2 separate regions of the Homo sapiens genome follow, and region 1 is linked to region 2. Evidence: fine-mapped expression QTL. A gene starts in region 2. The other region holds a variant in brackets. All regions are shown on one strand. Distances are from middle to middle. Region 1 overlaps TLK1 (tousled like kinase 1). Region 2 holds the start of GORASP2 (golgi reassembly stacking protein 2).

The links. PIP is the estimated chance that this variant, and not a neighbour inherited with it, causes the effect.
Region 1: its variant is fine-mapped to the expression of GORASP2 in whole blood (INTERVAL, PIP 0.96).

The regions. Positions count from the first base shown.
Region 1 is chr2:171,124,317-171,129,701 of GRCh38, reverse strand. All of the region lies in intron 1 of TLK1 (tousled like kinase 1), which reads left to right. It overlaps LOC124906092, which reads left to right. Exons shown (of 1, transcript XM_047446755.1): 1 at 1-5,385. Among named protein-coding and RNA genes, the nearest start is that of TLK1, 34 kb to the left of the region's middle. The variant CTTTTT/T (reference allele first, on the strand shown) is at 2,408.
Region 2 is chr2:170,926,356-170,931,674 of GRCh38, reverse strand. It overlaps GORASP2 (golgi reassembly stacking protein 2), which reads right to left and starts at 2,422. Exons shown (of 10, transcript NM_015530.5): 1 at 2,272-2,422. The coding sequence starts at 2,334. RefSeq lists a silencer at 1,944-2,643.

The sequences.
Region 1 (5,385 bases), 200 kb before region 2:
GCCTGGATAATTTTTTAAATTTTTTTGTAGAGATGGGGTCTCTTCAGGTTGCCCAGGCTGGTCTCGAACTCCTGGGCACAAAGGACCTGCCTGCCTTGGCCTTCAAAGTGCTGGGATTACAGATGTGAGACACCACTCCTGGCCCCTTGTTGATTTTCATTCATTGTTTTCAGTTGTGCTTTAATAGGTAGATCGTATTCAACTTGGACTTCTTACAAAAAGTACTTGCAGCCTCCTTTTTGGTCAGGGATCTACTTACCTGCTGTAAAGGGACTTTAAGAAAGAAAAACTGTTCTGTGGCCCTTCTTTCACCCTGTATTATTGGGATAGAAGAATAGGCCAAGAAGGAGTACTGTGGAGCAGTAAATCATCACTGTCCTTTTTAAGGTTCATAACAATTGGTTACCTCTCAGGAGTGGGATTTGGAGACAAGGAGGTATTGGGACTTTTTACTTTTATATTTTTGTATTTATTTCAAGAAGCACCTATTACTTAGTAATGAGGGAAAGGGATGAAACCAAAAAAGAGTCTTGAGTACTTAGGTTAGAGACAAGATACCAGTCTACTTTCTGGTAGTGAGGAGAGGGTAATTACCAGCTCAAGTTTTACCAGATTCCTGTTTTGGAGTTTTCTTAGAGAACATTCCTTCTTACTGCAGGATCAAGTACATGCTCTGTTTTTCTCTGTGTCTCTGACACGGACACGTGCACACACACATACACACACACACACACATACTCTTCCTCTGGACCCTTCTTTTGGGACAGAGATGCTTAGTTGAGTGGATATAAACTATAACAAAAGGCAGTATAACTTAACCTTTCAGTGTCTCAATTTCTTTATTTTTAAAATCAGGACTATATGTTAATACAGAAATGCAGTCTAGTATAAAATACATCTATATGTGAGTATGTGTATATACATTTGTATGTATGTGTATATATATATACATGTACATGTATATACACAATGTGAGAGATTGATTTTAAAAATAGCAGATTGTCACAAGTTTGAGGCTAGAGGAAGAGGAACTTGGTTAGTTGTGTTACTACTATATTAGCATAAAGAAATTAGGCACGGAAGTATATGTAATCCTATTATACTTAGCAGGAACTTCTAACCCCAGGAAGAAAGCTAGAAGGGGGCTTATTACATTATATATGCTAATATTTATTGAGCACTTATATTTTAGCATACATATATGTTCACATTTATTGAATGCTTTCTAAGTGACAGATTTAGTTCAAAACTATTCATAGAAACTTATTTTACTTTAACAACTCTATAAGGTATGTACTTTTATTATCTCCATTTTCTATATAAGGAAGCTAAAATAGAGAGAGATTAAAGAACTTGACCAAACTTTACACAACTTATCGACCTACGTATGTTTTTGATGAAAGAAAAATTAGTTGTCAGATTTTTTTATTAGTAAGAATAAAATTGAAATTTAAATTATTTTCATTTTTTAAGGTCATGGCAGTAGAGAGAAGCAGAAACCCTATGCTTTAGTAACTCTGATGCAAGCCATATCTCCTTATATGAATTATTTGGTCTCAGAGTATTTGAATTCTTTGCTGTAAGGGTTGCAACAAAAGTGTTTAAAAAGACCAATTATATTAAAAAGATTAGGTGAAGCATTACTCTGACTTGGAATGATTCTAGATTAGACCTGTCTTCTCTACCACAGGGTTATATAATTGAACATGTATACCTAGATTCAGGGACCTGACTTTCTATACTTACTGTTGTCAGACATTTGGGTGAAATCTTCGGAAAGTGTGTGTCTGTGTTTATGTGTGTATGTGCAGTACATATATATCTATATATGTAGATAGATGGATAGATAATATGACTCAGAAACAGATAAATAGTTTAGTGAAACTATTTAGTGAATAAAGTACAAAACAGACCGATGTTTATGGAATGTGATAACCAGAGAGGTATTTTAAATTAGTGGGAAAAGTTTGAATTGGTGAGAAATTGGGACATTTTCCTTTGGAAAAAAATTAGATATATATCTATATATAATTCTAAATGGATTAATGTTCTAAATGTTAATATTTGAAATCATTAGAAAAAAATGTAGGAAATGGGTTTATTGAATTCATGTGAGGGAAGGGTTAGAAAAAGAAATTGGGCTGGTTTTGTGATAGCTCATTTAACTAACATGTTCATTTAACTGCCAAAAAATTAGAATATTTGGTTTTAAAGTAGGGAATCAAACTGTGGAATAAATAATGCAACATAGTATAGCCAACAAAAGTTATAGCTAAATATGGTACAAAATATTGTCAATGAAAATAGGTATGTTCTATTTATTAACCATGTTAAAATGGATGTTTCAAGACAAGATTCAGAAGTAATTCCAGTGTTATACAATATAGACTTCTTGAATTTTTTCTTT[CTTTTT/T]TTTTTTTTTTTGAGACGGGAGTCTCACTCTGTTGGCCAGGCTGGAGTGCAGTGACATGATCTCAGCTCACTGCAACCTCCGCCTCCCGGGTTCAAGTGATTCTCGTGCCTCAGCCTCCTGAGTCGCTGGGATCACAGGTGTGCACCACCACGCCTGGCTAATTTTTGTATTTTTTAGTAGAATTGGGGTTTCACCATGTTTACCAGGCTGGTCTTGATCTCCTGACCTCAGGTGATCCACTCACCTCAGCCTCCCAAAGTGCTGGGATTACAGGCGTGAGCCACCGTGCCCAGCCCAGACTTTTGAATTCTTTTGCTTTCGATACTTTTGAGTGCATTAAAAAAAACTAATGAAAAGGAATTATTTAAGTGGAATATTTTATCTTGGAGAAATAATTTCGTTGTCATAGTGTTTATTTTTAATAAAAGGAACCTCTGCCTTATCTAGTATAATATGTAAAGTATTAATAGAAGAAAAGCTTTAACTGTTCTCTATAAATCAGCTTATCAAGTGTAATATGAAAAGTAGCAGTTAAAATCTCGAGTGAATTAAAATATTTTTAGACTTCAGGAAGTTTTAAATTTAAAACTAAGGTCATGGCTCAGCAGCAATTGAATCTACTATTAGAAAGCTCTTAGTGAAAAAACTCTTTTTCACCTTTTTGGTAACTGGTATTAACCTTTTAAAAACCTGCATTCTAGGCATTTGATTTTATTATGACTGTCGTCAAGGAAGATTAAGACTTAAGGCAACTAAAAAATTATATAATGAAAAAATGATTCCTTGTCATAAATACAGGTGATATAACTATCATATAAAGTGATGTTGACTAACCAGAACTAGTAATATGTTCTAATATATCATCCTTGGATCCTTGGGAGCCCATACTTCTACAGTAATCAACATTTATTGAGTTTATGAGAGTGTGTGTTTAAAGACAGGGAGAGAGAGAAAACATGTTTATTAAAATGAAACATGACAAACTAATGGGTCGGATTGTGTTCTTTATGTTCCCTAAAATTTTTCTTCATCATATTGAATGTGATTGATCTCTAATTTGGGTAGTGACATTCCTTGTTATATGTTTTATGTGATGTTTTGGATTTACATTTGTAAATTTTGGGAAACAGGATAGTAAGAAGAGTAGCATAATTAAAAGACAGGTGGTTGTGCTTTGAAATGGGCTATTCTTTAAGAATGGTATGATCTTTATAGTGGCTTTTGTAATTTCTTCCTTTTCAAAATTATAAACATTTATTGTAATAAAGAATTTGATGGATTATAGTGAATTTACTTTTTTTCCAGAAAATTTCCCTCTTGAGGACAGAATTTTTTGTTAAGGGTCAAAAATGACAGTTTGAGTCCATAAAAGATTGAAATCTTTGAAGTGTGTTTTCTAGAACAGGAGTAAGCAAACTTACCTATTTTTACATGGCTAAAAACATCAAAAAAGAATAATTCTTTCAGGTGATGGGTGCACCAAAATCTCAGAAATCACCGCTAAAGAACTTATTCATGTAACCAATCACTACCTGTTCCCCCAAAACCTGTTGAAATAAAAAATAAATAATTCTTTGTGACATGTGAAATTTGAATTTCATTTTCTATTTATAAATAAAGTCTTATTGGAACACAGCTGCTTTTGCTTTATAATGGCAGAGCTGAGGAGTTTTGACAGAAACTGTATATGGCATTCTCATTACTTCAAGCTACTGTTTGGTGTACCACAAATTTCAGTGCTGCCATTATTGCTTGACGGTGTTTTGAGTGCCACATCTGTGACCAGATTGCAATTTTTTATTTTATTTGTTTATTTATTACCACTGTGTATCCATCATGTCAAAAAAAGGAAAGAAGAGAAAAATATAGACGTGCTTTTAAGGCACATTGGAGTGTGGGTTATTTTGTTATTGAATTTAATAGCAAAACATTGCTCTTATTATGAAGTGACACTAGAGCTGCAATAGAGGAATACAGTATACATGAAAGTAACTAGACTAATCATATACTACACTATGTCCAACTCTGAGGAAAGCAATAGAAAAATTACAAAACTTAAAAATGGAATATCTCATCACAGCATAATTTCTTCATAAAAATGAAAATGAGGCTGCCACCAAAATAAGTTTCCAAGTGGCTTATTTGTTTGCCAAGCAAGGAAAGCCATTTACTGATGTTGAGTTAATTAAATTGTATTTTATTGAAGCAGTCAAAAAAATTATGTCCAGAGAAAATAAACTTGTTTTAGGCTATTAGCTTTTTGGCAAGCACAGTTGATTTAAGAGTTGAGGACATTTGAAGCAACATCACTAGTCAATTAAAAAACAAGGCAAATGATTTGGAGTGGTTTTTCTCGGCTCTTGATGAGCCGGCAGATGTTATTGATACAATTCAGTTGTTCTTTATTCAAGGAGTCAATTCCAAGTTTGAAGTGGCAGAAAAGTTGGCCTCTGAATAGCCTGTGCAGAACAACTACAGGCAAGAATATTTTCAAAGCTGAGAAAACACTAAGTACAATCTGAAGTGGAATCTGTAAGGATGTGCTGCAAGCGGTGGTGATAGAATACATACGGAGCAGCAAAAGGCTTAGTTGGAGTAATTTACAAAGCTTGTAAAACTGAGGAGTTCATAGTTTATGGTTATTCATTGTTATTCATTGGCAGATACTTTGCAGAAAATATTTCCATCTATCCATGTGTGTTACTGAATCAGTACTGTCAACTGTGAAGTCAGTTTGCTCTTTTGGACTTAACTAGCATCAGCTGCATTAATTTTTGTTAGAAACAGGACAAATATCCTGACTGGCTTAGAAGTGGTAAAGTATATTTTCACAATTGTTTGAGCTAAAGGCTGAGATTGAAATTTTTTTAATAAAGAGAACTGCCCTCAACTGCTATTAAATACTAATTAGCTTTGGAAATTAGCTTTTTGTGAAGATTGAGTAATGTTTTTAAAATGAATTTAACCTAAGA
Region 2 (5,319 bases):
GACTCATGAAATCAAAAGACAGCAGTGGATATAAATGTTATTATAATTGGTATTTCAAAACCCAGTCAATCATATTAAGTTTTTACTACAACAAGATTGGCCAGGGAATTGGTTATTCAAGAAAACTAACTTCTAATTAAATCGTTCTAGAACTTGTTGAATATGGGTGATTTTATTCAAAATTTTCCTGCCACAGTTACTCCAGTTTACAAGCTTGGTAATCTAACAATGAAATATATCGCTGTCCATTTAGGCAATAACAAATGAAAGGAAGACATTTTTACATGTTAAGATTTAACACAGCACTTTTCCCTCTAAAAACAAAGATAAGAAAACCAATTACAGAATCAGGGGCAGAGGGTCTTAGGAAGGCAGACACAAAATTCTCCTAAACTAGATCATTACTATTTTAAAGCTCTCTTTAGTAAAAGTCTAACTAAATAAGAATTATTTCATCGTGTGCAACATTAATGCTCCAGATGCAGATTGGTAACTAAGGTTGTCCCTAGTTTTTCTAAAAATCAGATGTATAGATTAATAACACATCTGCACTACTGAATATGTATGAATGCTGTTTCACTTGACTGCACTTACATAAAGAAAATACAAACTCATTTTATGTCGGAATGCAGTCACTAAGTTGGAATCCTTTTGATGTGTATGGCTTTCTTTCAAACACGCGACTTTTTTTTTTTTTTTTTGCTTATTAACACTAATGTGTTTTACTGAGTTTCCCTGAGTGCATGTATTATAAAAATATCATGAATCCCCAAGGATTCATGACCACAATCGGTCACTGTGAGAAACAGCTGGTAATACTGGGTAACATCCCAGGGTAGAGAACTCAAAATCAGACCAGATAATAGAAAGAAAAGCACAGCTTTCACCTCACATTTGGGAACTGACAATTCTCCTTCCATTTCCTCTCTCAGTGTGGCTCTTGGGTGTTTGGTTAGCAGAAGGGGATAGGAAGATAATACGGTTTATTTATAGGCTCCCTTTTCCTTTCGGGGAAAAAAAAAATCACCCTTTCCTACTAAGAGTATGGCAGAGGAGGGATTTTTAGTGTAATGGAAAGGCAATAGACACGATAATCCGGAAGATCAGAAAGATGATCTGTCTCAGCCCTATCACATAGACAGCTGGGCAATTTAAGAATGTGTCTCACCTAAAACATGGGACCCAGGGCAGGAAATGAAGGTAGCACCAGGAAGTGCACTCTCTTACTTTCAGTGAAAACGTTCTTGCCTGTGAGGAGCTAATATTGAGTGACACTCTATTACACCCCTAAATGGCGCTACACGCTGCGGCCACTCTGTTGACTGTTCATGTTAACACTCACACAGGTGTCACAGCAAACAACCATCAATGCTACTTCTAAAGTCGCCCGGTTCCATGAGGAAAAGACCACATGCTTTGTACCACCCAGGCCCAGGCCGTTCATAGGTAGGGGCTTAGCTGACGCCTTTTGAGATACTATGTTTCTCTGCGTCCTGGAAGTTAAGCTAGGGTTGTTTTCCTTTATATACTCCGATTTTTAAAAAAAATTTCTCTGCACTACCTCTTTACCACTGTGGATCTAAACCTTATAATCTAAACCACACCCTCAGCAATCGGAACAGAACGGAAGTTCCCACTCCAGGAAATCTTGAGAAGGTTTGGGAGGGTCAGGAGTGGCACGGGAAAGGAAAAGTCTGGTCAAAATCAAGTCTGTTTAAGTCCGTCGAACCTACTTCCAGGCCATTTGGTTTTCCGTCTCCTGCCCTGCTGGTCTTTCAGGCCACTCGGCCGGCGCCGAGGTGATTTAACACCTGCCGCCGCAGGCCCCGCCTCCGGACTGCGGGTCCGGATCCCTCTCCTAGGAAAGCGCAAAGGCTGCCTTCACAGTCACCACTTTGGAGACGTTGCCTCCGCGCCCTTCCTAACTTTGGAAGCTAAAAATGAGGGGGGGTGGAGGAGAGAGAAGGCCGTGCGGAAAAAGAGCAAGGTTGTCCCCCCTTCCCAGGGCCGCCCCCTGGCCGAGTCGCCGGCAGCCGCCTCCAGCTCCAGCCCGTCCTCCTACAGCCGCGGACCCCGTGCCCAGGGCGCTCCGCGGAGGTGGGATGCGAGCGGCCTCCGGAACCAGCCTCGACCAAGGCAGCGCCCGCGACCGCCGCTCCTTCGCGGGATCGGGCCTGGCTGCCCCGTGAAGGAGCCCATGGGGGCCTCCGCCTCCCCGCGGCCGGCCCCGCCTCCAGCCCGCAGCTCCCCGGCCGCCGTCGGAGCCCTTACCCGCAGAACGTGGTAGCCCTCGGTGCCCCCGCCCGGGATCTCGACGCTTTGCGAGGAGCCCATGGCGGCGGGCGATCGGTGTGGCCGAGCCGGGCTCCGCGCTGCTCCCGCCCCCAGCGCACCGCCTGCTCTAATCCTCCGCGTAGCACTTGGGACGTGGCACTCGCTGCCGCCGGAGAGCCGGGCCGCACAGCCCGCCGGGAGATCGTCTCTGCTGCAGCCCGGGCCGCTGCGACGCCGCAGACAGCGCCACCTGCCGCGAGCCACTGGAAGGGGCCCGAGCGCTCGCGGGCCGGGAGGGCGGAGAGGGAGGGCCGGAGGAGGACTGGGAGGCACCGCGTCGTGCTCGCGAGAGAACAGAAATGCGCTTCCCCCAGCTTTGGCGCCTTGCTACGGGGCCCTGGATTGGACTAGATTTATGCAGACGCGTTCCCGCTCGCCTGAAAGAACACATACTTGGTTGCAGGTCCCCCTGGTGGCCAGAGGCGGGGAAAGGGCTGCTGATGAACAGGAGCGAACTCAACACACACCAAGCTCTCTGTTCTCCGGGTGTGTAGGTATTTTCCCAAACTGTACAGCTGAGGGGAATAGTGGCCTCCTGTGGGCTGCCTAGCATCTGCTCAGCTAAATTTTATAAAAGGAAACGCTCCCTTTATAAAACAGTAGTCTCACAGAGTCACCTACCAACTTCTTTTTTGGTTTGGGTTTGTTTTTTTTTCTTCCTCCCTAATTGTGAGAATAAGATTAGAGGATTGGTCATAATCAGAGCGATGCCAGCGTGGGAAGCACGGTTGGATTTCCCTGGCATTCCACCACCTGCTGCTGCTCGGTTCCCCGTCCTACCTCCTTCAGGTAGCCAGGTCGTATTCATGCTTATTCCGTTGTCGTATTCCGTTGCTGCTTTTGCCCCTTACGTGTACTCCCTCTGAAACCCCTAGTTGCTTTGTGGTCAGTTGGACTGATGTTGCGTCAACCAGGTATTATGTGGATTCCTATGTGATGCAATGTAAAGTACGTGCTATCGCCCATGAAGTATTCTAGCCCAAGGTGGTTAACTTGCCTCTATGGCATCTTGAGTTTGATGTTTACAGGAAGTAAGGGGAATTGAGGAGCAAGTAAAATGACACCACAGGGAACCAGGCAAATACAGGAAGTGGGCCTTCCTTCAGGACAGCTGGCCAGTTCTCTTTGTCGAGTCAGAGTCCTATGAAAGGGCCTATGCCAGATTAAAAGGAACCCGAAGAATATAACCAAGAGACACATTGCAAGGGCTTGAGTTGGGGGCCAACTTGGAGAAATAAGCGTAAAGGACATTTTTGGTTCATTTGGAGAAATTTGAATATGTACTGAGTATTAGAAGAGTAGTTATTCACATGGAAACGTGGAAATTATTGTCTTTTTTAAAAGCTGGTTACAAGACGGGATGTGTCTGTAGACAAAATGAAAAACATGTCCTCAAAATACAGATTAATATGTATGTATGCATATGAAGATGTGGGAGGAGAATATGAACCAAGGGTTACAGTGGTGATCTCTGGGTGGTGACAGAGATATTTTATTTTTTGTTTTGGCTGGTTCCATATTCTATGATGCTCATGAAGTGCTTTTGTAATAAGAAAATATTATTTAAAATTTAAAAATAATTTTCTTTGCTATCGGTAAGTGAATAGCAGATTTTTAGGAGGCCTAATAAATCCATAAATCCATAAATGAAATCTCCAGTTATTAGGCTCCTCAAGGACAGGGTCTGCAGTGGAGTTGGCTCTATGTTCTTGATATTTACCAGAATGCCTAGCAGCTAATTCAACAAATTAATACATTTAATGCAAGAGAATAAATGGAAGAACTAGATCTAATTATAATGTTCTCATTCTGCTTGGCAATTATAACCCTCTTTATGATGGAAGCTGCTGCCATGTTCAGTGGTCAAAATTTTTGGACCAGTTGTCTCCCATATGTCTGATGGCAGCCGCGGCCTATAGAACCCAGGCTGTGGATCGTTGGTGGTCCATGGGCAAGTCCAGCCCTTCCTTAGAGCTGTAGTGTATGTTTCAGCCTCATGAGTGGCTGCTTGTTATTCTCCACACAAGCCATTTACTTTCTTACCTTCTTGATTTTATTCATGCTATTCTCTACTTCTGGAATGCCCTTCCTTACATTTTCCACTTAAAAAATCCTAACTTTGAAAAAATCCTAATCCTTTAAGTCCCATCTCAAATGTTACTTATTTATCCTTAAGGTCAGTGTGACTCTCTCCTTGCCATGAAACAGTTCCTTCATTTCTATGACATCATCGTCATCATCACAGGCCTGTCTTCCACCATTCGTGGTCCATTCATTCAGAGCAAGGATCATATTTTTTTTTTCCTTCCTTCCTTCCTTCCTTCCTTTCTCTCTCTTTTCTTCTTTCTTTCTTTCTCTCTTTCTTTCTCTCTCTCTCTCTCTCTTTCTTTCTTTCTTTCTTTCTTTTCTTTCTCTCTTTCTCTTTCCCTCATTCCCTCGCTCCCTCCCTTCCTTCCTTCTTTTTTTTCCTTTCTTTCTTGTGAAATGGGTCTCACTCTGTCTCCCAGGCTGCAGTGCAGGGGTGTGATCACAGCTCACTGCAGCCTCCACCTCCTGGGCTCAAAATCATCCCTACCTCAGCCTCCCGAGTAGCTAAGACTACAGGCACGCACTACCACACCCAGCTAATTTTTTTGATTTTTTGCAGAGACGACGTCTCATTATGCTGCCAGGCTTGTTTCGAACTCCTGGGCTCACATGATTCTCCCACCTCAGTCTCCCAAAGTGCTGGGATTATAGGTGTGAGCCACCACACCCAGCCGATCATGTTTTTTCATCTTGAGATCCCCAGTTCCTGGTTGAGTATTGGGAACATGGTAGTAGTGTTTATTGATTTGAATTGAATGTGTGTAATGAATAGCTTCAAAGCCTTTTTTTCAGAATCAGTTAGTAAGTGACCTCTGTGGCTACTATTTGTGTCTCATCAAAATCTGTGGGTTTTTTTTCTTTTTTTTCCTAATTCCCAGGGTGATGGTAAAAACCCAT